Linked DNA regions of Homo sapiens: region 2 is linked to region 1. Evidence: fine-mapped expression QTL. A gene starts in region 1. The other region holds a variant in brackets. All regions are shown on one strand. Distances are from middle to middle.

Evidence for each region.
Region 2: its variant is fine-mapped to the expression of NDUFS5 in whole blood (INTERVAL, PIP 0.90).

What each region holds. Positions count from the first base shown.
Region 1 is chr1:39,020,955-39,031,647 of GRCh38, forward strand. It overlaps NDUFS5 (NADH:ubiquinone oxidoreductase subunit S5), which reads left to right and starts at 5,396. Exons shown (of 3, transcript NM_004552.3): 1 at 5,396-5,448; 2 at 7,769-7,986. The coding sequence starts at 7,771. RefSeq lists enhancers at 5,228-5,477, 5,337-5,923, 5,924-6,509 and a silencer at 7,280-7,445.
Region 2 is chr1:38,974,937-38,985,629 of GRCh38, forward strand. No RefSeq gene overlaps it. Among named protein-coding and RNA genes, the nearest start is that of AKIRIN1, 11 kb to the right of the region's middle. The variant A/C (reference allele first, on the strand shown) is at 5,360.

The DNA of each region.
Region 1 (10,693 bases):
GTTCAAGTGATTCTCCTGCCTCAGCCTCCCAAGTATTTGGGATTACAGGCACCTGCCACCATGCCCAGCAAATTTTTATATTTTTAGTAGAGACGGGGCTTCACCAAGTTGGCCAGGCTGGTTTCAAACTCCTGACCTCAGGTGATCCACCCACCTTGCCTTCCCAAAGTGTTGGGATTACAGGTGTGAGCCACCACACCCAGCCTCCCTCCCTCCCTCCCTCCCTCCCTTCCTTCCTTCCTTCCTTCCTTCCCTCCCTCCCTCCCTCCCTCCTTCCTTCCATTCTCTCTGTCTCTCTGTCTCTCTCTCTTTTTGACAGGGTCTTGCTCTGTCACCCAGACTGGAGTTCAGTAGCTCAATCATGGCTTACTGCAGCCTGGAGTTCAGTAGCTCAATCATGGCTCACTGCAGCCTCAACCTTTTGGGCTCAAGTGATCCTCCTGCCTCAGCCTCCTGAGTAGCTGGGACTACAAGCAACACACCACCATGCCCAGCTAATTTTTTTTTAATTTTTTTTGTTGTTGTTGTATTGACAAGATCTCACTATGTTGCTCAGGCTGGTCTCGAACTCCTGGGCTCAAGCAATCCACTTCAGTCTCCTAAAGTGCTGGGATTACAGGCATGAGCCATCATGCTTAACCCTGCATGGTATTTCTGAGGAATGATATGATGAAATCTGTATTTTAGGATGACCAGTCATGCAGAACAGATTGGAGTGAGGAGTTGGGAGACAAGAAGGAAGAGATAAATTGGAAATTTGTTGAAGGAATATTTGACAGAACTTGTGCTGTAATTAAATACTAAATGAAAGAAAAGGAAAAGGCAGAATACAACTCCAGAGTTTGCTGCCTAAGTGGCTGGGAAGATGACACCATCAACAAACAAGAAAAGGGGCAGGGGACTGGAAAAGGTAGTGATAACTCGCCACTAGCACTTTGTGGGCAAGGGCCATGAGTTACCAGTTATATAATCCTGCAGTATTCAGCTGGACATACAAGAGGTCTTCACAAAGTTTATGAAAAATGTGTATTATGAAAAAACTATGCATAGATTTCAAAAAATTTTTGCACCAAAATAAATTTGTACTAACTTGTTATAACATGTCTGAGCAGGATCTACTTTGAGGCACTATGAAGGATAAGACATTAGTTTGAAAAGAGCCCCTATAAGAGTAACATGAATTCTGCTAAAATTGAAGCAAGAACAAATATCAAGTTTATGGTTAAGCTTGGGTGGAAGAATGGTGAGATCATTGAAGCTTTACGAAAAGCTTATGGGGACAATGCCTCAAAGAAATCAGCAGTTTACAAATAGATAAATTGTTTTTTGTTGTTGTTTTTTGAGAGGGAGTCTCACTCTGTCACCCAGGCTGGAGTGCAGTGGCATGATCTAGGCTCGCTGCAGCCTCTGCCTCCCACGTTCCAGTGATTCTCCTGCCTCAGCCTCCCTGGGTAGCTGGGATTACAGGCGCCTGCCACCACGCCCGGCTAATTTTTGTATTTTTAGTAGAGATGGGGTTTTGCCATGTTGGCCAGGCTGGTCTTGAACTCCTGACCTCAGGTGATACACCTGCCTCGGCCTCCCAAAGTGCTGGGATTACAAGCATGAGCCACCGCACGTGGCCAGATAATTTGTTTTAAGAAGGGATGAGATTAGGCCGGGCTGTGCCTCTACTACAGACTCCTAGTATTTATTTTCTTTAAGAATACTTGGCCAGGCGTGGTGGCTCATGCCTGTAATCTCAGCACTTTGAGATGCTGAGGCAGGCGAATCACCTGAGGTCAGGAGTTCAAGACCAGCCTGGCCAACATGGTGAAACCCCGTCTCCACCAAAAATACAAAAATTAGCTGGGCATTGTGGTGGGCTCTTATAATCCCAGCTACCTGGGAAGGCTGAGGCAGGAGAACTGCTTGAACCCAAGAGGCGGAGGTTGCAGTGAGCCGAGACCACGCCATTGCACTCCAGCCTGGGCGACAGAGCAAGACTCCATCTCCAAAAAGAAACAAAATAAAGAAGGGATGAAATGATGTTGAAGATGAAACCCACAGTGGCAGACCATCCACATCAATTTATGAGAAAAACATTTTGTGTCCTAACTGAAGTGGATTGACAACAGCAGAAATAATAATCAATACCATAGGCATCTCACTTGGTTCGGCTTACATAATTCTGACTGAAAAACTAAAGTTGAGCAAACATTCCACTTGGCAGGTGCCAAACCATCATGCCCAGATCAGCTGCAGAGCTTTCAATGGGAATTTTAAACAAGCAGGATGAAGATCCTGAAGCATTTCTTTGAAGAATTGTAATAGGAGATGAAACATGGCTTTACCAGTACAATCCTAAAGACAATGCACAATCAAAGCAATGGCTACCAAGAGGTGGAAGTGTCTGGTCAAAGCAAAAGTGGACCAGTCAAGAGCAAAGGTCATGTCATTCGTTTTTTTTTTTTTAATGTTCAAGGCATTTTGTTTATTGACTTTCTGGAGGGCCAAAGAACAATAACATCTGCTTATTATGAGAGTGTTTTGAGAAAACTAGCAAAAGTTTTAGCAGAAAAATGCCTGGGAAAGCTTCACCAGAGTCATTCTCCGCTATAACAATGTTCCTGCTCATTTCTCTCAGCAAACAAGGGCAATTTTGCAAGAGTTTTGATGGGAAATCATTAGGCATCCACCTTACAGTACTGATCTGGCTCCTTCTGACTTCCTTTTGCCTTTTTTTTTTTTTTTTTTGGAGACAGAGTTTTGCTTTTGTTGCCCAGGCTGGAGTGCAATGGTGCGATCTCGGCTCCCTGCAACCTCTGCCTCTCCAGTTCAAGCGATGCTCCTGCCTCAGCCTCCTAAGTAGCTGGGATTACAGGTGCCTGCCACCACACCTGGCTAATTTTTTGTATTTTTAGTAGAGACAGGGTATCACCATGTTGGTCAGGCTGGTCTTGAACTCCTGAACTCAGGTGATCTGCCTGCCTCAGCCTCCCAAAATGCTGGGATTACAGGCATTAGCCACTGCACCTGGCCCTTGTTTTCTAATCTTAAAAAACTCTTTCAAGGGCACCCCATTTTTTCTTAGGTTAATAATGTATAAAAGAGGCTGCCTTATCCTTACAAGCAGCCTGCCCTCAACTCTCTCTCAGAGTGTTAAAAAAAAATGTATAAAAGGGCCAGGCATGGTGGCTCATGCCTGTAATCTCAGCACATTGGGAGGCCCAGGCAGGAGGATCACTTGAGCCCAGGAGCTGGAGACCAGCCTGGGAAACATAAAGAGATACTGATCTCCACAAAAAATTTTTTTAAAGAATTAGCTTGGCCGGGCGCAGTGGTTCACGCCTGTAATCCCAGCACTTTGGGAGGCTGAGGCGGGCAGATCACGAAGTCAACAGATCTAGACCATCCTAGCCAATATGGTGAAACCTCGTCTCTACTAAAAAAAAATACAAAAATCAGCTGGGAGTGGTGGCGCACACCTGTAGTCCCAGCTATTCAGGAGGCTGAGGCAGGAGAATCGCTTGAACCTGGGAGGTGGAGGTTGCAGTGAGCCAAGATTGCACCACTGCATTTCAGCCTGGTGACAGAGTGAAGCTCTGTCTCAAAAAAAAAAAAAAAAAAAGAATTAGCTGGGCACAGTGGCATGTCTGTAGTCCCAGCTACTTGGGAGGCTAAGCAGGAGGATTGCTTGAGCCCTGGAGTTTGAGGCTGCAGTGATCTATGATAGCACTACTGCACTCCAGCCTGGGTGATGGAGTGAGACCCTATCTCAAATAAAATAATAATTATAATAAAGACTGCCAGGCACATGGTGGCATGCACATGTGGTCCCAGCTATTTGGGAGGCTGAGGTGGGAGGATCACCAGAGCCCAGGGAGGTTGAGGCTGCAGTGAACTGTGATTGCACCACTGCACTCCAGCGGGGCAATGGGAGTGAGAATCTGTCTCAAAAGTAATAATTATATATATATATATTTATATATATATATATATATATATATATATATATATATATATATATGTTCTAGTATTTTCCTCCCATACCTCCAATGTATAATATCTCATGCACCCTGTGGTCCACCCCCCAAAGACATACACACAACACTTTAGAGTCTCTGATGTAGTCAAAGGGAGTCATTGGAGGTTCTGGAACAGATGACAGGCATGGTAGCAGTTGATTCACAAACTGAAAGCTGAGACATCAAAGAACTGCGACTGCCTTGGAATGTTTCCCATGTGCTAGCCACCGCCTCAGTGCTTTATACATAAATCAGTTAATCCCTATAGCAAGCCTCCATTGTGAATACCATAATTATCTTAACAGACGAGGAGACTGAGGCACAATGAAGTTAAGAAACTTTCCTAGAGTCACACGAAATTGGTGGGGGCCTACTTTTTTTTTTTTTTTTTTTTTTTTTTTTTTTTTTTTTTGAGACTGAATCTAGCTCTGTCGCCAGGCTGGAGTCCAGTGGCGCGATCTCACCTCACTGCAACCTCCGCCTCCCGGATTCAAGCGATTCTCCTGCCTCGGCCTCCCCCCACTAGCTGGGATTACAGGCACTCGCTGCCACACCCAGCTAATTTTTGTATTTTTAGTAGAGACAGGGTTTCACCATATTGGCCAGGATGGTCTCGATCTCCTGAGCTTGTGATCCGCCCACCTCGGCCTCCCATAGTGCTGGGATTACAGGCCTGAGCCACTGCGCCCGGCTGGGGGCCTACATTTGACCCCACGTGGTGGTTTGGGCTCATAGTCCATGTGCTTAACCACTAGTGGGTAGGCAGGGAGCCAGTGTTCTTTCTCTCCTGTGACTTTGGTGAAGTCTCTCACCACTCAGTGTTGTCGTGAGCATGCTAGGCAGAGTGCAAGAAAGGAGCAAGAACTCACTAATGGCTAGGCCTTCCCTGTGTCTCTGTAATTGATGGGTTTGGGTTTTTTTTCCTTTCTCTCTCTCTACCTCCTCTCTCTCTTCTTCATCCTCTCTCTCTCACTCTCCCCCTGAGATAAGGTCTTGCTCTGTTGCCAGGGCTGGAATGCAATGGAATGGTGTGATCATGGCTCACTACAGCCTCAATCTCCTGGGCTCAAGGGATCCTCCCACCTCAACCTCCTGAGTAGCTGGAACCACAGGCATGCACCACCTCGCCCGGCTAATTTTTTATTTTTTGTAGAGAGGGGAGTTTCGCCATGTTGCCCAGGCTGTTTTCGAACTCCTGGGCTGAAGTGATCTTCCTCCCTCAGCCTTCCAAGGTGCTGGGATTGCAGACGTCAGCCACCGTACCAGGCCAACGGGCTCGGTTTCTATGGTTTTGTGGGGAGACGGCTGAGGGAAGGTCGGCTTCCGGCGTCGCGCTGCAAACGTCTCGCTGAGGTCATCCTTTACGGCAGGCGTCCGCGTCGCTAGCTAGTCGTTCTGAAGCGGCGGCCAGAGAAGAGTCAAGGGCACGAGCATCGGGTAGGTAGGGGCTGCTTATGTCCGCGCGGCAGCTTAGCTTAAGGACCTTCCTTCCGAGGTCTCTTTAACAGATTTCCTCTTGGCTTGCTGTGTGTCCCCTTCTCCCAGACCTGAACTCAGGGCGTGTTCCCTGCCCTCCCAGGCCGCTTCACCTCCACAGCTAATGGCACCGAAGCCTGGAGATTGCCGCTCTCTCCACTTTCCACATTTGTTTAGGTTTTTGCCGGACTAATGTTTTGGCTTTCTGTTTCTTAACCTAAAGTCTACGATCCTTATCCCAGCTTTCCAGGCTCTGCGTGATTTCGGCCCCGCCGGCCTCCTGAGCTCATTTCATTCTTTTCACCGTCATGCACGCTGCGCTCCATTGTCCCCCAAACATAGCCAGCACTTCCGGCTGTAACTCCGGGCTGTTGCCCAACTGGAACACTCTGCCCACTGATCTTCACTTGGCGAACTCGCAAGCCATGTTAAAGGCATTTTCAAGTCTCCGGGCAGAGTTCGTGCTTCCTCCTTCGAGCTCTTACCCACTCGTGTTCCTTGCAGTGTATTCGCAATTCCGAGTGTGTGTCTCTGGTGCTTACGTTGGAGCTGCTTTCCCCCGCATCTGAGTGCCTGGAACGTAACTACTCAGTAAATGATGACTGAGGGATGGGAAGGAACTTAAGAAGTTAAATTCACCTTTTTGTTGAGATGGAGTTTCGCTCTTGTTGCCCAGGCTGGAGTGCAGAGTGGCGCGATCTCGGCTCACTGCAGCCTCTGCCTCCCGGATTCAAGCGATTCTCCTCCCTGAGACTCCCGAGTAGCTGGGATTACAGGCATGCGCCCCCACGCCCGGCTAATTTTGTATTTTTTTAGTAGAGAGAGGGTTTCGCCATGTTGGTCAGGCTGGTCTTGAACTCGCGGCCTCAGGTGATCCGCCCGCCTCGGCCTCCCAAGGTGCTGGAATTACAGGCGTGAGCCACTGCGCCCAACTAAATTCACCTTTAAATCTACCATGAGTACACATTTATATTGATATTTGTGGGTGTGCGCGCGCTTCCTTTCAGTCATTTTAGGCAGTCAGGGTTTGTTTTTGTGTGTGTGTTTTTACATTTAACATTATTATGTATTTGCATGTAAATTTTTTTCCCTACTGTCTGTAATAGTCTACAAAGTAAGTCTTAACCCATTTCTTTCGCTCTGGTTTTTTTTTTTTTTTGAGACAGGATCTCGCTTTGTTGCCCAGGATGGAGTGCAGTGGCCAGGTCATAGCTCACTGAAGCCTTGAACTCCTGGCCTCAGTCTCCTGCCTCAGCCTTAGGAGTAGCTGGGACTACAGGCGCACATACCACCACAAGTGCCTTTTTTTTTTTTTTTTTTTTTTTTTGAGACAGAGAACCTGACCAAAGGATCCAAATTCTTTTTTTCTTCTTCTTCTTTTTTTTTTTTTTTTTTTTTTGAGACAGAGTCTCGCTCTGTCGCCCAGGCTGGAGTACAATGGCGGATCTTGGCTTATTGCAACCTCTGTCTCCCCAGTTCAAGCAGTTCTCCTGTCTCAGCCTCCCGAATAGTTGGGATTACAGGCATGTGCCAACACGCCCAGCTAATTTTTTTGTATTTTTAGTAGAGACGGGATTTCACCATATTGGCCAGGCTGGTCTTGAACTCCTGACCTCAGGTAATCCACCCGCCTTGGCCTCCCAAAGTTCTGGGATTACAGGCATGAGCCACCGCGCCTGGCCCACAAGTGGCTGATTTAAAAAAAAAATTTAGGCCAGGTGCAGTGGCTCACACCTGTAATCCCAGCACTTTGGGAGGCCAAGGCGGGCGGATCACCTGAGGTCAGGAGTTCAAGACCAGCCTCGCCAACATGCTGAAACCCCATCTCTACTAAAAATACAAAAATTAGCTGGGCGTGGTGGTGCGCACCTGTAGTCCCAGCTACTTGGGAGGCTGAGGCAGGAGAATCGCTTGAACCCTGGAGGAGGAGGTTGCAGTGAGCCAAGATTGCACCATGCGCTGCAGCCTGGGTAACAGACGGAGACTCCATCTCACGTGGTAGGTGAGCCACCGCTCCTGACCGAGAAAGGATTTCTATGCATTGTTCTTTAGTTATAGTTCTCTTTTCCTTGAGTTTTGAAAAAGCGCAAAAACTGCTTATCTGCCATAAACTGGAAGAACCTATTTAATGAAAAAGTTTGGTGAGAAGAAATCAGGAGAATAATATCAAACAGTGTTCTAGAGGGCTACTTAGCATGATTATCTAATTTTTTCTTAGAAATTTCTCAGTTGATTGCCCTCTTGTGGTATTTTATTTACTTATTTTTTTAAATCTTCCATTACAGCCATGCCTTTCTTGGACATCCAGAAAAGGTTCGGCCTTAACATAGATCGATGGTTGACAATCCAGAGTGGTGAACAGCCCTACAAGATGGCTGGTCGATGCCATGCTTTTGAAAAAGAATGGATAGAATGTGCACATGGAATCGGTTATACTCGGGCAGAGAAAGAGTGCAAGATAGAATATGATGATTTCGTAGAGTGTTTGCTTCGGCAGAAAACGGTAAGGAAATGATGGAGGTGGAAGCTGAATTACTTTCTTGTTCCTTTGGGACTCTTTTTTTTTTTTTTTGAGACGAAGTCTCACTCTTGTCCCCTAGGCTGGTGTGTGATGGCGCCACCTCGTCTCACTGTAGCCTCTGCCTCCCAGGTTCAGGCGATTCGCGTACCTCAGCCTCCCGAGTAGCTGGGATTATAGGCACCTGCCACCACGCCTGGCTAATTTTTGTATTTTTAGTAGAAACGGGATTTCACCATGCTGGCCAGGCTGGTCTTGAACTCCAGACCTCAGGTGATCCGCCCCCCTCAGCCTCCCAAAGTAGTGGGATCACAGGCATGAGCCACCGTGCCTGGCCTCCTCTGGGATTACTCTTAAGTGTTTTTAGTGGGTCATTGAGCAGTGGCTTGCCAAATGTGAATTGGCAAAGCTTTTCTGGTGAAATACCTTTCCTACTTTGGTACCATGATGAGGAAATTAAATGCCTTCAGATATGAGGATGGTCCATTGTTCCTCAGCATTCTTTCTCTTCTCCCAAATTTTCCTTAGTATTTTACCCTGCTTTAGCCACCAGGTTAGAAATTGCATGTGTGTGTATACCCATTTTTTCAGTTGGCTGTGAAGCAGAGAATATCAACTAGTTTTGGATGTTGACCCTTGAAAATCTTTGGGTGAAAATATGTTCAAATCCATTGAATCCTCATTGGAAAAGAGGTTTAACCTTGCAAATCCATTACATTCAACATCTTTGGATTCATTCCACTCTGAAGAAGATGGAGGTGTTAATGAGATTGCTGTACATGAGCGTGAACAACGATGCAGTGGAAAAGGGATGTTAACAGCTTAGTGTTCACCTCCTCAAAAGTTGAATGAGTTGGCCAGGCACGGTGGCTCACGCCTGTAATCCCAGGACTTTGGGAGGCTGAGGCGGGTGTATCACGAGGTCAGGAGTTTGAGACCAGCCTGGCCAAGATGGTGAAACCCTGTCTCTACTAAAAATACAAAAATTAGCAGGGCATGGTGGTGGGTGCCTATAGTCCCAGCTGCTCGGGAGGCTGAGGCAGAAGAATTGCTTGAACCCGGGAGGCGGAGGTTGCATGGAGCCGAGATCGTGCCACCGCACTCCAGCCTGGGCGACAGAGCGAGACTCTGCCTCTAAAAAAAAAACCAAAAAAACAAATTTAAAAAAATCCCATGCAGTGGCTCATGCCTGTGATCCCAGCACTTTGGGAGGCCAAGGTGGGCGGATCACCTGAGGTCAGGAGTTCAAGACCAGCCTGGCCAACATGGTGAAACCCCGTCTCTACTAAAAATACAAAAATTACCTAGGCATGGTGACAGGGGCATGTAATCTCAGCTACTCAGGAGGGTGAGGCAAGAGAATCGCCTGAAACTGAGAGGCAGAGGTTCCAGTGAGCTGAGAACACACCACTGCACTCCAGCCTGGGCGACAGAGCGAGACTCCGTCTCAAGAAAAAAAAAAAAAAGATGGCCCGGCACAGTAGCTCACTCCTGTAATCCCAGCACTTTGGGAGGCCGAGGCAGGCGGATCACAAGGTCAGGAGTTCGAGACCAGCCTGACCAACATGGTGAAACCCCGTCTGTACTAAAAATACAAAAAAATTAGCTGGGTGTAGTGGCTGGCGCCTATAGTCCCAGCTACTCGGGAGGCTGAGGCAGGAGGCTGAGGCAGGAGAATGGCATGAACCCGGGAGGCAGAGCTTGCAGTGAGTCGAGATTGTGCCACTGCACTCCAGCCTGGGCGACAGAGCGAGACTCTGTCTCAAGAAAAAAAAAAAAGAAAATAAAAAAAAGATTTTGATAAATTGATACCAACAGGAGGCATTGTAGTAAGGTGGAAAGAACATTGGATTGGGAGTTAGGAGAGTCAGGTTCTGATGCTGGTTCTGCCACCACTCATTTGTTGTTGGTTGATTAATTTTAATTTATGTTTTGAGACAGCGTCTCACTCCCGTCGCCCAGGCTGGAGTGCGGTAGCGTGTTCACAGCTCACTGCAGATTCAACTTGGGTTCAGGTGATTCTTCCACTTCAGCCTCCCAAGTAGCTGGGACTACAGGAGTGCACCACCACGCCCAGCTAATTTTTTGTATTTTAGCAGAGACAAGGTTTCACCATGTTGCCCAGGCTGATCTCGAACTCCTGAGCTCAGGTGATCTGCCTGCCTTGGCCTCCCAAAATGCTGGGATTACAGGTGTGAGACACTGCACCTGGCCCTAATTTTGATTTTATTTATATAAAATAGAAATGGGGTCTTCTTGTGTTGCCCAGGCTGGTCTCAAACTCCTGGGCTCAAGCGATCCCACATTGGCCTCCCAAAGTGCTGGAATTACAGGTGTGAGCCACCACACCCATCCTGTTAGTCGTGTTTTTGAGACAGGGTCTTGTTCTGTCACCCGGGCTGGAGTGCAGTGGCGTGATCATAGCTTACTGCACCCTCAAACTCCTAGGCACAAGTCATCCTCCTGCCTCAGCCTCCCAAGTAGCTAGGACTACAAGTGCATGCCACCATGTGCGGCTTTTTAAATTGTTTATAGAGACAAGGTTTTGCTATGTTTCCTTTGCTGATCTTGAACTCCTGGCCTCAAACGATCCTCTTGCCTGGGCCCCCCAAACTGCTGGGATTACAGAAATGAGCCGCCACGTCCAGCAAACCACCACTAGTTTTGTGACTTTGAGCAAGTCACTTTCTCT
Region 2 (10,693 bases), 46 kb before region 1:
GCTGCTGTGGTTAAGAAGGTCTATTTCATACCTACATTGTACATGTGGTCTCTTCTATTTTATTCTAAGATTTTTGTTCTTTAATTTTATGTTTTCATTTAAATGTAAAAGTTTAAACCATCTTTTTTTTTTGTTTTGAAACTGAGTCTCCCTCTGTTGCCCAGGCTGGAATGCAATGGCGTGCTCTCAGCTCACTGCAACCTCCGTCTCCCTGGTTCAAGCCATCCTCAGGCCTCAGCCTCCCAAGTAGCTGGAACTACAGGCGTGCACCACCACATCCAGCTAATTTTTGTATTTTTATTAGAGACAGGGTTTCACCATGTTGGTCAGGCTGGTCTCGAACTCCTGACCTCAGGTGATCTGCTCACCTTGGCCTCCCAAAGTGCTGGGATTACAGGCATGAGCCACCGCACCTGGTCTAAACCATCTTTTGAAATGGTATGACATAGGGGTCAAATTATCTTTCATAATTATTTTTCTTTCATATAGAGAAACAGTTCAATATCATTTACTAAATGAACCATTTTTTTTTGCCTGGCTGTAACAAATAACACTATTGTCATATGCTGAACTCTCTTCCATACTGGGATCTAGTTCTAGATTTTCTTTTTTTTTTTCTTTTTTTCTTTTTCTTTTTTTTTTTTGAGACAGGGTCTCATTCTGTTGCCCAGGCTGGAGTTCAGTGGCACAATCTCAGCTCACTGCAACCTCTGCCTCCCAGATTCAAGGGATTCTCCTGCCTCAGCCTCCCGAGTAGCTGGCATTACAGACATGCCACCACGCCCGGCTAATTTTTGTATTTTTTGGTAGAGACAGGGTTTCACCCTGTTGGCCAGGCTGGTCTCAAACTCCTGACCTCAAGTGATCCACCCGCCTTGGCCTCCCAAAGTGCTGGGATTACGGGCGTGAGCCACTGTGCCCAGCCTCTAGATTTTCTATTCTTTTCCAGTATTCTATTCCTATGCCAATATTATACTAATTTGATTAAAGTAGGTTTGTGGATGTTCTGGTATCTGGTTAAGCAAGTAGTTCCCCTTCACTGTACTCCATGTTCATACTTTCCTAGTTTATTCTAGGGTATAAATTCTTCCATATGGATTTAAGGTTATTTTAATGATTTCTTAAAAACTGCCTGCCTGGCCAGGTGCGGTGGCTCACGCTTGTAATCCCAGCACTTTGGTAAGCCGAGGCAGGTGGATCACTTGAGATCAGGAGTTCAAGGTCAGGAGTTCGAGACCAGCCTAGCCAACATGGAGAAACCCCATCTCTACTAAAAATACAAAAATTAGCTGGGCATGGTGGTGGATGCCTGTAATCCCAGCTACTTGGGAGGCTGAGGCAGGAGAATTGCTTGAACAGAGGCAGAGGTTGCAGTGAGCCGAGATTGCACCACTGCACTCCAGCCTAGGTGACAAACCGAGACTCCGTCTCAAACAAACAAACAAAAAACCTGCCTGCCAGAATTCTAATTGGAATTGCATTAAATATAAGTATTTTTAAATATTTTTGTTGTTACAACGTTAAGTTTTCTTATCCAAGAACAAATAACTTTCTACTTGTCTAGCTTTGAACTTTATGTTGTTCAGTAACATTTTTATTATATTCTTCATATACATCCTGTGACTTTGTTCAGCTTATTTATAGGTATTTGAAAAAACTTTTTACCAGGCATGGTGGCTAACACTTGTAATCCCAGCACTTTGGGGGCTGCTGAGGCAGGAGGATTGCTTGAGGCCAGGAGTTGGAGACCAGCCTGGGCAACATAGCCAGATCCTGTCTCTACAGTTTTGTCTTATTTTTTTGTTTTGTTTTTATTTATTTATTTTGGCTCTGTCAGCCAGACTGGAGTGCAGTGGCGAGATCTCAGCTTACTGCAACCTGCCTCCTGGTCTCAAGTGATCCTCCCACCTCAGCCTCCCAAGTAGCTAGCACTATAGGCTCATGCCACTACGCCTGGCTTATTTTTGTATTTTTTGTAGAGATAAAGTTTCACCATGTTGCCCAGGCTCCCGGGCTCAAGTGATTCAGCCACCTCGGCCTCCCAAAGTGTTGGGATTACAGGCATGAGCAAAAAAAAAAGTTGTTTTAATTAGCCAGTCATGGTGACATTTGCCTGTAGTCTCAGCTACTCAGGAGGCTGAGGTGGGAGGAAAACTTGAGCTCCGCAGTTCAAGGCTTCAGGGAGTCAAGATTGCACCACAGCACTCCAGGCTGGGTGAGAGAGGGAGGCCGTCTCTACAAAAAAAAATTTTTTTTTTGAGACGGAGTCTCGCTCTAGGCTGGAGTGCAGTAGCACGATCTCAGCTCACTGCAACCTCCGCCTCTTGGGTTCAAGTGATTCTCCTGCCTCAGCCTCCCGAGTAGCTGGGACTACCAGCACGTGCCACCACGCCCAGCTAATTTTTGTATTTTTAGTAGAGACAGGGTTTCACCATGTTGGCCAGGATGGTCTTGGTCTCTTGACCTCGTGATCCACCCACCTCAGTCTCCCAAAGTGCTGGGATTACAGGCATGAGCCACCATGCCTGGCCTATGAAAAATTTTTTAGGATAAAAAATTTAAAAATCTTTTTTTAGAGACAGAGTCTCACTGTGTTACCAGGCTGGCCTTGAACTTCTATGCTCAAACAATCCTGCATCCGCTTCCTAAGTAGCTGGGACTACAGGAAGTCCCACCACACCGGGCCCTGGGTATTTTATATTATTGAGAATTTTTTTTTTTTTTTTTTTTTTTTTTTTTTTTAGTGACAGGTGTGTCTGGAATTGGTTCCTTCCGGTGGGTTTGTGGTCTTGCTGACTTCAGGAGTGAAGCCACAGACCCTCCCGGTGAGTGTTACAGCCCTTAAAGGTGGCATGTCCGCAGTTGTTTGTTCCTCCCGGTGGGTTTGTGGTCTCACTGACTTCAGGAGTGAAGCTGCAGACCTTCGCAATGAGTGTTACAGCTCTTAAAGGTGGTGCTCCTCCTCAAAGAGTGAGGAGCAGCAAGATTTATTGTGAAGAGTGAAAGAACAAAGCTTCCACAGTGTGGAAGGGGACCCGAGTGGGTTGCGGCTGCCATCTTGGGTGGCAGCTTTTAGTCCCTTATTTGGCCCCACCCACATCCTGCTGATCAGTCCATTCTACAGAGTGCTAATTGGTCCATTTTATGGCGTGCTGATTGGTCCATTTTTAGAGAGTGCTGATTGGTGCATTTACAAATCTTTAGCTAGACACAGAGTGCTGATAGGTGCGTTTTTACATAGTGCTGATTGGTGCATTTACAAACCTTTAGCTAGACACAGAGCACTGACTGGTGTGTTTACAATCCTGTAGCTAGACAGAAAAGTTCTCCAAGTCCCCACCCGACCCAGAAGCCCAGCTGGCTTCACCTCTCAATCCCCCCTTTAAACAGGATACCCCAACTACTGTTGGGAATTGGGCGATGACCGTTCTAGCTACTTCCTGCTGGATAGGGGCAAAGAAGGGGCCCTGCAGTTGTAGTGTCCTCCAGAGGGGAATGCTTTAGGCCAAAGGGCCAGTGGATCGGTCCAGCGGTCCTTGATAGAAGTTGTTAGTTGAGCTCATTTGGGGTTCTATTTGTAAGACCATCTGTAGCTTGATGGCCTCGATCCTAGAGGAAACAAATTTGACAAGGAGGTTAAAAATACAGGGCCCGAAGGCAAGTAATAGCAAGACGGCTGTCACGGGACATAGAGAGGGGAGAAGCCAGGTTGCCCAACTCCAGAGGTTGGTATAAGAGTTTGAAAGGCATCGTCTGATTTCAGAAGACTTTTCCTGTAAACGCTGGGTGGCATCTAGTACTATCCCTGACAGGTTAGTGTAAAAGCAACACTCTTCCCCTAAGAAGGTACAAAGTCCTCCTTTCTCAGCAGTGAGGAGGTCTAGGCCTCGGCAGTTTTGGAGAGTCACTGCTGCCAAAGAGTCTATTTGGGATTGTAGTTACTATCCTTACTGGATAGATTTTGCTATTTCTTTTTTTTTTTTTTTTTTTTTTTTGAGACGGAGTCTCGCTCTTTTACCCAGGCTGGACTGCAGTGGCACTAGCTCGGCTCACTGCAACCTCCCCCTCCCGGGTTCACGCCATTCTCCTGCCTCAGCCTCCCGAGTAGCTGGGACTACAGGCGCCTGCCACTTCGCCCGGCTAATTTTTTGTATTTTTAGTAGAGACAGGGTTTCACCGTGTTAGCCAGGATGGTCTCGATCTCCTGACCTAGTGATCCGCCCACCTCGGCCTCCCAAAGTGCTGGGATTACAGGCGTGAGCCACCACGCCTGGTAGATTTTGCTATTTCTTGCAAACTGTCTGAGAAATCCTTTGAGAGTATGTGGTAGTAGGATAATGCATGTTACACTGTTAACTTTTAGCAAACTTTACTTTAGTTAAAAACGTTGTAAATTTGGGATTTTAATTTTCCTTTGCTATTAATAAAACCTCGTTCAGTCCATATTAACTTAGAATTGGTATAGATGGCTCCTTCCTAATTCTGTAAGTACTTTAAGATTTGGCTGAGTGCAAACAACTCACACGTTTGAGCAGACCAATAATTAGGCAATTTTCCTAACTGCTTCTACAAGAGTTCCCTTATCACTTACTGAATACCCACTGTGTCTTTTTTTTTTCCCTTAATTGCCTGGGAGGAACCATCTATCATCCTGTCCTGAAGGGAGTTCCTCCTAGATCTGGTTGGACTTTTGTATGGCAATTAATTAAGATTTAGATCCCCTGTTAGGAAACCTGCTGGGTTAAGGATCTTTGACAGGAAGGCTATGGGTTGTCAGTGGCCTCAGTGCTTTCAGGCTATGCCCTTGTTTGCACTGCCAACAAGGTGGTATTGGAGTGGTACAGGGTCACGGAGAAGACCTTCAATTATCAATTATAGGTTTTAAATTTACCCTGGCTTTTAAAGGAATAGGGTACACTGTTTTTTCTTTACTACTTCCATCTCTCTTTCTCTTTGACTTCTTTGTCTCTCTCTGTCTGTCTCTTCCTCTCTCTGACTCCCTTTTTGTCTCTGTCTCTTGGGGTCTCCCTATGGTGCCCAGGCTGGTGTCAAACTCTTGGGCTCAGGCCAGGAACGGTGGTTCACACCTCTAATCCCAGCACTTTGGGAGGCCAAGGCAGGCAGATCATGAGGTCAGGAGATGGAGACCATCCTGGCTAACATGGTGAAACCCCGTCTCTACTAAAAATACAAAAAATTACCCGGGCTTGGTGGCGGGCGCCTGTAGTCCCAGCTACTCGGGAGGCTGAGGCAGGAGAATGGCATGAACCTGGGAGGCGGAGCTTGCAGTGAGCCGAGATCAGTGCCACTGCACTCCAGCCTGGGTGACAGAGCGAGATTCCATCTAAAAAAAAAACAA[A/C]AACAAAAACTAAAAACTTCTGGGCTCAAGTGATCCTCCTGCCTTGACCTCCCAAAAGTGCTGGGATTACAGGTATGAATCACTGCACCCCACCTCTCTTAATTTCTTTTTTTTTTTTTTTTTTTGAGATAGAGTCTCGCTCTGTCACCCAGGCTGGAATGCAGCTGGTGCCATCTTTGCTCACTGCAACCTCCACCTCCTGGGTTCAAGTGATCCTCCTGCCTCAGCCTCCTGAATAGCTGGGACTACAGGCGCACGCCACTACACCTGGCTAATTTTTAAATTTTTAGTAGAGACAGGGTTTGCCACGTTGGACAGGCTGGTCTCAAACTCCTGACATCAGGTGATCTGTCCGCCTTGGCCTCCCAAAGTGCTGGGATTACAGGTGTGAGCCACCACACCTGGCCTTAATTTTTTAACATTACATTTTTTTTTCTTTTCATTATATTTTTTCATAACTGTGGTTCTCAAGTACATTAGAGGACTTGTATTTGCCTGTGCCCCTAAATAATAGGGTAAACATGCTTTTGACATGTGATTAGAGTAAACTGAACATTCTTGAGACTGGTACAGCTGGGTGCAGTGGCTCACACCTGGAATCTCAATGCTTTAGGAGGCTGAGGTGGGACAATCCCTTGAGACCAGGAGTTTGAGACCAGCCTGGGAAATATAGCGAGACTGTCTCCATAAAAATACTTTTTTTTTAAATTAGCCAGTCCTAGCTCCTGTAGTCCCAGCTACTCATGAGGCCGAGAAGGGAGAATCACATGAGTCCAGGAGTTAGAGACTCCCGTGAGCTACGATTCTACCATTGCACTCCAGCCTGGCAATAGAGCAAGACCTGATCCCTGAAAAAAAAAAGAAAAAGACAGAGAAGAAGAGGAAAGGCTATTGAATGTTATTAAAGCCTTTTCAGCATCTATTGATATAATCTTAAGGTCTTTCTTCTTTAATTCATGGAATATATTTATTTATTTATTTATTTTCGAGGCAGAGTTTCGCTTGTGTTGCCCAGACTGGAGTGCAATGGCGCAATCTCAGCTGATTGCAACCTCCGCCTCCCAGGTTCGAGATTCTCCTGCCTCAGCCTCCCCAGTAGCTGGGATTACAGGCGCCCGCCACCATGCCTGACTAATTTTTGTATTTTTAGTAGAGACAGAGTTTCACCGTGTTGGACAGGCTGGTCTTGAACTCCTGACCTCAGGCGATCCACTCTCCTTGGCCTCCCAAAGTGCTGGGATTACAGGCGTGAGCCACAGAGCCCGGCCAATTCATGGAATTTATGAATTATGTTGATATGCTTCCTGATAGTCTAGCCACCCTCATACATTTGGAATGAGCCAGTTTGGTCACCTTGTGGACTTGAATCTGCCTGGGCCCCTAAATGATATGGTAAGCTGGTGTGACTGTGAAACCAACCCAATAGTCCCATAGACAGTTGTTTTTGGATAAACATAGAAATTGACCCTTCTGATCCAAAAGCTTGAAACTTACATTTGTTTTGTTTGTTTGTTTGTTTGTTTGTTTTGAGATGGAGTCTGGCTGTGTCGCCCAGGCTAGAGTGCAGTGGTGCAATCTCGGATCACTGCAAGCTCCGCCTCCCGGGTTCATGCCATTCTTCTGCCTCAGCCTCCCGAGTAGCTGGGACTACAGGCACCTGCCACCATACCCGGCTAATTTTTTGTATTTTTAGTAGCGATGAGGTTTCACCATGTTAGCCAGGATGGTCTCGATCTCCTGACCTCGTGATCCGCCCACCTTGGCCTCCCAAAGTGCTGGAATTACAGGCATGAGCCACCGCGCCCTGCCGGAAACTTAACATTTGTTTTATCTGAGTTTCTTCCTCAAGAAAGGATCTCCAGTCCTCTCAAAACGTATCAAAGAACTGAAACTCACCAGATCATCTCCTCCAGACAATGAGACTCCAGGCCCCCAATTCATCATGATTGCTTCCTTACCCTTCTGAGTTTCTGTTTTCTCATAGATAGTTACATTTCTTCCCTGATATATAAACCCCAAATTTTAGCTGGTCAGGGAGATGGATTTGAGACCAAGCTTCTATCTCCTCAGCTGCAGCACCCAGTTAAAGCCTTCTTCTAGCAATACTCATAGTCTCAGTCACTGGCTTTCTGTGCTGTGAACAGTAGGACCTAGACCGAACCCCTGGTGTTTCGGGAACAACTCTTGTGTACTGCATTCCAGTTGCTAATGTTTTATTTGGAATGTTTGCCTCTGTTCATTAGTAAAGTTGGTCTATAGTTCTTTCTTGGTACTACATTTTTCAAGGTTTGGTTTTAAAATTATGTCAGCAGCATAAAATGAATTGGGGAGCTTCTCAATTTTCGATTGGATCAAATAACTGTAATAGGTCAAATAACTATGGACCTGTGTGTTCTTTAAAGGTTAAATGGAACATAGTTAGAAAGCTATTAGGTTCTGTTCTTTTTATTATCTAAAGGTGGATCTTTAATCACCTTTCAGGTCTCTTTTGTGATGTGTATTAGTTCATTCCCACATTGCTATAAAGAAATACCTGAGACTGGGTAATTAATACAGAAAAGAGGTTTAGGCCAGGCGGGGTGGCTCAAGCCTGTAATCTCAGCATTTTGGGATCCACCGAGGCAGGTGGATCACCTGAAGTCAGGAGTTCGAGACCAGCCTGGCCAACATGGCCAAACCCCATCTCTACTAAAAATACAAAAATTAGCAGGGCATGGTAGCATGCCCCTGTAGTCCCAGCTACTTGGGAGGCTGAGGCAGGAGAATCGCTTAAACCTGGGAGGTGGAGGTTGCAGTGAGCCGAGATCACGCCACTGCACTCCAGCCTGGGTGACAAAACGAGACTCTATTCCCCGCCTCCCCCCACAAAAAAAAAAAGAAAAAGAAAAAAAAAGAGGTTTGGCTGGCCACGGTGGCTCACGCCTATAATCAGAACACTTTGGGAGGCCGAGGCAGCTGGATCATTTGAGGCCAGGAGTTCAAGACCAGCCAGGCTAACATGGTGAAACCCCATCTCTACTAAAAATAAAAAAGTTAGCCAGGCATAGTGGTGTGCGCCTATAAGCCCAGCTACTTGGGAGGCTGAGGCACAAGAATAACTTGAGCCCAGGAGGCAGCGGTTGAAGTGAGCCAAGATCGCATCACTGCACTCCAGATTGGGCGACAGAGTGAGACTGTCTCAAAAGAAATAAAATAAAAAAATGTGTTGCCATCAAGTTGTACGCAGTATTCTCTTACAATTATTTTTCATTTCTAATTTATTTATGATTGTCTCCTTTCTTATTCCCAATCTTAAACATTTTTTTCCTGTCTCCTTAGTGAGATTTTTAAGGAGTTTATTATCCTTTTTAAAAAAAAACCAGCTTTCAGATTTATTCATCCTTTTTACTATTTTTATCTCCTAGTTTACTAATTTCAGCTTTATCTCTTTTAGCTTTTAGTTTTTATTTTTTTCTTAAGATGAGTTTTTAGGTCATGTATTTATGTATATATTTTTTTCTTTTTTCTTTTTTCTTTTTTTTTTCTAAGAGGGAGTTTCACTCTTGTTGCCCAGCTGGAATGCAATGGCACGATCTTGGTTCTCTGCAACCTCTGCCTCTCGGGTTCAAGGAATTCTCCTGCCTCAGCCTCCGGAGTAGCTGGGATTACAGGCGCCCACCACCATGCCCAGCTAATTTTTGTATTTTTAGTAGAGACGGGGTTTCTCTATGTTGGTCAGGCTGGTCTTGAACTCCTGACCTTATGCGATCCGCCCACCTCAGCCTCCCAAAGTGCTAGGATTACAGGTGTGAGCCACCGGCCTCATAAATGATTATTAAATCAACTTTGTTTATTCAGCTCTTAAGTTCCTCTGTGTTTTTGCCTATTAGTCAGTACTAAATCTGTGTAATCACAATATCATTGTATTTTTCTCAAGTTCTCATTGCCTTTCTTCTTTTTTTTTTTTTTTTTTTGAAACGGAGTCTCGCTCTGTCGCCGAGGCTGAAGTGCAGTGGCACAATCTCGGCTCACTGCAAGTTCCACCTCCCGGGTTCACGCCATTCTCCTGCCTCAGCCTCCCAAATAGCTGGGACTACAGGCGCCCGCCATCATGCCCAGCTAATTTTTTTTTGTATTTTTTAGTAGAGATGGGGTTTCACCGTGTTAGCCAGGCTAGTCTCGATCTCCTGACCTTATGATCCGCCCGCCTTGGCCTCCCAAAGTGCTGGGATTACAGGAGTGAGCCACCGTGCCCGGCCTTTTTTTTTTCTTTTTTTGAGATGGAGTTTCGCCCTTGTTGCCCATGCTGGAGTGCAGTGGCACGATCTCGGCTCACCGCAACTTCCACCTCCCGGGTTCAAGCGATTCTCCTGCCTCGGCCTCTTGATAGCTGGGATTACAGGTGTGTGCCACTATATCTGGCTAATTTTGGATTTTTAGTAGAGACGGGGTTTCACCATGTTGGCCAGGCTGGTCTCAAACACTGACCTCAGGTGATCCACATGCCTCGGCCTCCCAAAGTGCTGGGATTGGAGGCATGAGCTACCGTGCCCAGCTGTCTCTTCTATTTCAGTTTTTTTTAGCCTTTTTATCATGTATCTCCAGATAGCCTATCAACATCCAATGAGAAATATATGTATTTCCATAGTCTATCAGTATACAATAGATATCCAATGGATTTTTGTTTGTTTGTTTGTTTGAGACAGTCTCGCTCTGTCGCCCAGGCTGGAGTGCAGTGGCGCAATCTCAGCTCACTGCAACCTCCGCCTCCCAGGTTCAAGCGATTCTCCTGCCTCAGCCTCTGGAGTAGCTGGGATTACAGGCGTGCACCACCACACCCGGCTAATTTTTTTTGTTTTTAGTAGAGAAGGGGTTTCACCATGTTGGCCAGGCTGATCTCAAACTCCTGGCCTCAGGTGATCTGCCCAACTCGGCCTCCCAAAGTGCTGGGATTACAGGCATAAGCCACTGCACCTAGCCTGCAATGGATATTAATGGACTTTCTGAAATTTATTATATATAACATATATTAATACATAAATATATAATTACATAAGCATAAAATATATAAATGAACATAGACATATATATTGTATTATAGCTGTGTTCCTCTGTAATCATATGTGTTTTATTTTTGCACTTAAAAACATTCAGAGAAGGGGTGTATGGCACACAAGGAAAGGCTAAGAACTCCTACCTTTAACAATCCCACCTGCCCTTACAACTTCAGTAACCATTTTTCCACCGATGACTCACCTGAATTTTTTTCTCCAATTCAGATCTCTCTTGAATTCCAGACCCGCGTATTTACATACAAATACCTCCACTTGAGACGCCCAAGTGAGGCTTTAAAGG